Regions from separate parts of the Homo sapiens genome. Here region 1 is linked to region 2. The links come from fine-mapping of genetic effects on gene expression. A gene starts in region 2. The other region holds a variant in brackets. All regions are shown on one strand. Distances are from middle to middle. Region 1 overlaps OAZ3 (ornithine decarboxylase antizyme 3). Region 2 holds the start of TDRKH (tudor and KH domain containing).

Region 1 (2,904 bases), 21 kb after region 2:
CTATTACCCACCCCCCCAAGAAACCGTGAACACTTGATGATTGCACTACCCTTTATTCCTAGGATGGAAAGTGTCCTGAATCACATCCCGGGCCCCTGATTCCATGTGTCAAGGCTTCCAGCCCCTCAAAGCGTTGGAATAAGCATGTTCAAGGAGGCTCACTGGGCAGGTGGCCAACATCCCTTTCAAGGGGATACACCATAAAGATGACATTGTCCAAGGGAGGGAGGGCAGGGTGATCTGGTCTGACCACCTCAAAGCCCATGTAGCTGAAGGCCCGCAGCAGGGCACCTGTGAAAGGATAGAACAAATGATTAGAACATGCTTTAAAACTCAATACATGTATGCCCCCAGATTTGATTTCTTCCACTAGGGAGTGGCCCTGGGAAGCAGTGTAGTGCAGGCATATAGGATGTGCTTTAGTCCAACAGACCTAGGCTCTAACTCTGGTTTTAACACTTGTTCTGTGAGTTAGTCCTGCAGAACTTCAGTTTCCATCTATAGAATTTTCCATTTATAAATCATAGAACCTTCCTCCTCACAGAATTTAAGATGAAATGAGATGTTCATGAAGTGCTTAACACTAGAGATTAGTGAGGTCTACCTATATACTAATACAATGATGACATAGTAAGCTCTGAAATAGTATCTATCACTTATGAATGGTTATTCACCATCCCTTATATCCAACAGAGTTTGAGCTCCTTGAGGCAAGAGGCTATAGTTTCTGTAACATATGCTCCAGGCATCCGGTTAAATATGTCCCCGTTCCCTTGGCCTTATGTCTGACCCTTTCACATTGTAGGTGCTCCATATGTTTGAGATCCATTTTGTCCTGCTGGCCACATCCCTTGAATGGATTCTGTGTAATTTCACCAGTGCTCCTTCAGTCTGGCCCCTAACACCACCTGCAGGGGCTTCCTCAGAGTCCAGTTGTAACTTGATGGAACAAGTTACAACTTCCCACCTTCGTGGTAGGTGGGAAGAAAAGAATCCCTGAAATGCCTGAGGGTGCATTTTTAAAGACAGGGGAAGAGGGTCTCCTATAAAGGAAAAGGAGTTATCCAGCTGCCTCAGCGCGAAAAGCAAGGAAGAACAGCAGATCCCCACCTCTGTCGTTCCGATCATTCTGGAAGTTCACAAACACAGAGTCCACATTTGTCTTCTCTTCCACGTACTCCAGGGTTGCAGTCAAACTAGGAGCCACAGAAAAACAGTTAAAATGTTTGGCCGCTCCCTCTCCCTCTCCCTCTCCGTCTCCGTCTCCCCATGGTCTCCCTCTCCCTCTCTCTCCACGGTCTCCCTCTGATGCCACCAAAGTTGTGAAAGCCGAAGCTGGACTGTACTGCTGCCATCTCGGCTCACTGCAACCTCCCTGCCTGATTCTCCTGCCTCAGCCTGCTGAGTGCCTGGGATTGCAGGCGCGTGCCGCCA[T/C]GCCTGACTGGTTTTCGTATTTTGGTGGAGACGGGGTTTCGCTGTGTTGGCCGGGCTGGTCTCCAGCTCCTAACCACGAGTGATCTGCCAGCCTCGGCCTCCTGAGGTGCCGGGATTGCAGACGGAGCCTCGTTCACTCAGTGCTCAGTGTTGCCCAGGCTGGAGTGCAGTGGCGTGATCTCGGCTCGCTACAACCTCCACCTCCCAGCCGCCTGCCTTGGCCTCCCAAAGTGCCGAGATTGCAGCCTCTGCCCGGCCACCACCCCGTCTGGGAAGTGAGGAGCGTCTCTGCCTGGCCGCCCATCGTCTGGGATGTGAGGAGCGCCTCTGCCCGGCCGTCATCCCGTCTAGGAAGTGAGGAGCGTCTCCGCCCAGCCGCCCATCGTCTGGGATGTGGGGAGCGCCTCTACCCGGCCACGACCCTGTCTGGGAACTGAGGAGTGTCTCTGCCCAGCCGCGACCCCATCTGGGAGGTGAGGAGCATCTCTGCCCGTCCGCCCTGTCTGAGAAGTGAGGAGCCCCTCCGCCCGGCAGCCGCCTCGTCTGGGAAGTGAGGGGCGTCTCCGCCCGGCAGCTGCCCCGTCCGGGAGGTGGGGGGCAGCCCCCGCCCGGTCAGCCGCCCCGTCTGGGAGGGAGGTGGGGGGCAGTCCCCACCCGGCCACCGCCCCCTCCGGGAGGTGGGGGGTGCGTCTGCCCGGCCGCCCCTTTTGGGAAGTGAGCCCCTCTGCCCGGCCGCCACACCGTCTGGGAGGTGTACCCAAGAGCTCATTGAGAATGGGCCATGATGACGATGGCGGTTTTGTCGAATAGAAAAGGGGGAAATGTGGGGAAAAGATAGAGAAATCAGATTGTTGCTGTGTCTGTGTAGAAAGAAGTAGACATAGGAGACTCCATTTTGTTCTGTACTAAGAAAAATTCTTCTGCCTTGGGATGCTGTTAATCTATAACCTTACCCCCAACCCCATGCTCTCTGAAACGTGCTGTGTCCACTCAGGGTTAAATGGATTAAGGGCGGTGCAAGATGTGCTTTGTTAAACAGATGCTTGAAGGCAGCATGCTCGTTAAGAGTCATCACCACTCCCTAATCTCAAGTACCCAGGGACACAAACACTGCGGAAGGCCGCAGGGTCCTCTGCCTAGGAAAACCAGAGACCCTTGTTCACTTGTTTATCTGCTGACCTTCCCTCCACTATTGTCCTATGACCCTGCCAAATCCCCCTCTGTGAGAAACACCCAAGAATGATCAATAAATACTGGGAAAAAAAAATTTGGCCAACTCAGAATCCAGAAAGACACCTACTTGGAGCAGTAAAAATATTATTGGTCGTTTTCTGCCCTCCACCCACCCAAGCCAGGAAATGAAAGTTGCTAAACTAGTTTTGGTAGATTTTTCTTGGAAGCCAAGAGATTGCACATCACTGGATGTAAGCCACAGAAGGGGTCTGGGGAGAAAGGACTACTGAGATGAAC
Region 2 (2,904 bases):
TACGTATATGCTGCTACGGAAACATTTCCAGACTGTATCAAAGAAAGTTGCAAAATAGTATGTATGTTATCAACTGGGTTAAAAAAATATATGTGTGTGTATATATATATACACTTTATATATTACACATATACACACGTTAACTATAGAATATCTTGTGAAATTTTTCACAAGAAACTGGTAACCCTAGTTGCCTTGAAGGAAGGAAAATTTATTCACTATAATAACCTTGTTTCTTCTGAATTTTGTAGAATGTAAATGTATTACTTATTCAAAACGCATACACATTTTTATATTAATAGAAAGCAAAACCTGAGGCCCAAAGGCATCTGCCTAATTGACAAAAGATACAACCTTGCGTTCTTTCAGCAAATATTTATTGCTCATCACCTGCCAGGTATTGTGATGGAAGCTAGTGCGGAAGATCCCCCAATGACCAGGATCGCCCGACCCCTGTTCCCAGGGTGAGCCCCTAGCGCGGAGCGGGGACAGGGTGGACCGAGTAGGGCGCAGTGCTGGTCTCGCGAGGCTCCCTGCCCCACGGAGGCAGTAGCAGGACCCAACCGTTCCTAACCGTCCAGGGACCAGGACAGCGTCTGGAATAAAATCTTCCAAAGCAAACTTCCGCCTGCGGAGACCCGCTCCCTTCCTCGCCCCCACAGAAACGCCCCCCGCCACCACCCCCTCCCCCGGCGTAGGCCTTCACGCTGTCGCCTCGACCCGTTTCCTCGAATCCCCAGGGAAGGGTGGGCCCCTGGCGCCCCTATGGCCCGCCGCCCCCTTACCACCGCGGTCGGAGCCCGGGTCTCACTCTCCTGCCGCTGTTTCGGGCCACACCGTGTGTCCGTGCCTCCGCAAAGGAATAGAAGAGTGGGTCCTCGCTCTCTGCGGCGCACCGCTTGTCCCTTGACTTCCTGTCCATCTACAAAGCCTATTTCATGTTTTCCAGAAAGAAAACGTTTTCCGTGTCTCTTGAGTCCTCATCGCCATATGCGGGGCGGGACCGATCTATGCAAAAGATCGCAAGAGAAAACTGATGGAGCATCGCCCATCATGAGGCTGCTCTCCCGATGGTCACTGAGTTGTGTTGTGGCACTGTCTTTGTACAAAGACACCAATTTTTGCGAACGGTGCCACTCATGATTCAACGCTCTCATGCCTCGGTCCCAGCTGCTGGAGCGCAGATTTTCCTCCAAGGGTTAGAAGATAGAAAACTCCTCGGTAATTGGCCTAGAGGTGGTCTGCGAGGACGCCGGGAAGCTTGTAATTGGCTGTTTAATTCTCAGCAGGTGCGGTCTCAGTTAACAACATCTGCTTTTCCTGGATCTTATTGGCTGACAGGGTGGGCCTGCTTTGGATTCCATCCGGGTAATTGGGCAGCGGCTAGCAGCAGCCACGTCGCTCAGGGGCAGCCCGCGGAAGGATTGGTTGTGACGGGAGAAGGCGATTGGTCGGACTGCGAGCAGGGTGTTGATTGGTGCTGTCGGGCTGCGGGGGCGGGGAAGTGGCGGCTGAAGCGCCGCCGGCGGGGCTCACTGTGGTGGTGTGAGTGGGAGGCGGCGGCGCTGGTGGCTGCAGCTGGGGTGAGGCGCGAGGCGGCGCACTCGACGGCTGACTGGAGCAGCGGTAAAGGCGAGGATGGAGACCGAAGGTTTGGGGAGTGGGAAAGACAGGGTCATGGGCAGCCCTGGCCACTAGGAGACGGAAATGCGGGAGCGAGGGAAGGGAGGGGTCTGGCGTGCCCCGGGGCGAGGGAAGGATGTGGGGCGCAGCGGGGGAGTCAGAGCCCTGGGCTGTGAGACGCCGCTCGGGGGCAACTTGACCCACTGGGAACTCGTAACTGTATCTGAGGAAGATGCTCCAGTCACCCGCTTACGCCACAACGGACCCGGTGCGGGAGCGTTTGTGTTTGCCCTGAGTCAGTTCAGACTCTTCCACTGGGCCTTTTTGAGACTGAGAGCTGCCATCCGTATATCACTTTGCCTTTAACTTTCCCCAGCTTTTTCTTTAGTTATCGCTAATAGGATGGCTGTTTACAGTCGTCAGAATAATACATTGGGGTTTTTGTTTTTCCAGTATCCCTCATTCCTTAATCCAGGTATCATCGTGGGGGTTGGCTGGAGACCCCTATTTCAAAGACTGACTTTTAGACCCTTTCCTTGTTTTGAGAGAAAGGGGTTGACACTTTTTTTTTTCTCGTGAATTTAAAATAAACGTACCAAGGATGAGAACATTGAGCTGCTTCGATTCAAGCATGTCACCATGTTGTAGGTTCTTTGTAGGTTCTGGTTATTAGGAGATACTGGAATGAGTTATCTATGCTTTCATGGAGCTAACAATGTGATTTGACTTCTCATCACATCCTATTTGACTCCTGTCATTTTAAATGATAAAGTAAGCCTTAGCGATGCATATCAGATAGTTTTTGGCAATTGTTCAATACAAATGTCAGGAAATTTCAAAGTTAGCTTTCACTGAAAACCATTATCTAACCACATTCCTCACTGAACAATGATCCTCATCTTCTCTTCTTAGCTTCCCCTAGAAACTGTGGTCTTAAGTTCTAGTATTTTCCTCCTTCCCATTCAATTTTTAAGTAATAAAATCAAACACAAGCTAGCAGTCAGTACTATGCAGTTATCCCCGTTTACATTATATTATTTTCCATTTCTCTTTAAGAGAAACTTATAGCTGAAAGGATATGAAAATTGTGAACAAAACCATAGTGACAGATCAAGTAGAGTCTCATTTTTTGAGACATCAGCTGATAACTCAATTAGCACAAATTCATTTGTAATGTTTGAAGAGGAGTTAGTGAAATTTACCTTTTGCTTCAAATAGAAGTCGGCCAAAACCGCACCTATAATCTCAGCTACGCCGGACGACTGCGGGAGTTCAAGGCTG

Evidence for each region.
Region 1: its variant is fine-mapped to the expression of TDRKH in whole blood (TOPMed, PIP 0.94).

Annotation. Positions count from the first base shown.
Region 1 is chr1:151,768,464-151,771,367 of GRCh38, reverse strand. OAZ3 (ornithine decarboxylase antizyme 3) reads right to left here. Exons shown (of 5, transcript NM_016178.2): 4 at 1,111-1,196; 5 at 38-291. The coding sequence ends at 149. It also overlaps a transcript of TDRKH not described here. Among named protein-coding and RNA genes, the nearest start is that of OAZ3, 3.3 kb to the right of the region's middle. RefSeq lists enhancers at 907-1,601, 1,602-2,298. The variant T/C (reference allele first, on the strand shown) is at 1,435.
Region 2 is chr1:151,789,127-151,792,030 of GRCh38, reverse strand. It overlaps TDRKH (tudor and KH domain containing), which reads left to right and starts at 1,531. Exons shown (of 13, transcript NM_001083965.2): 1 at 1,531-1,651. TDRKH-AS1 (TDRKH antisense RNA 1) reads right to left here and starts at 1,282. Exons shown (of 2, transcript NR_146292.1): 1 at 786-1,282. RefSeq lists a silencer at 1,587-1,846.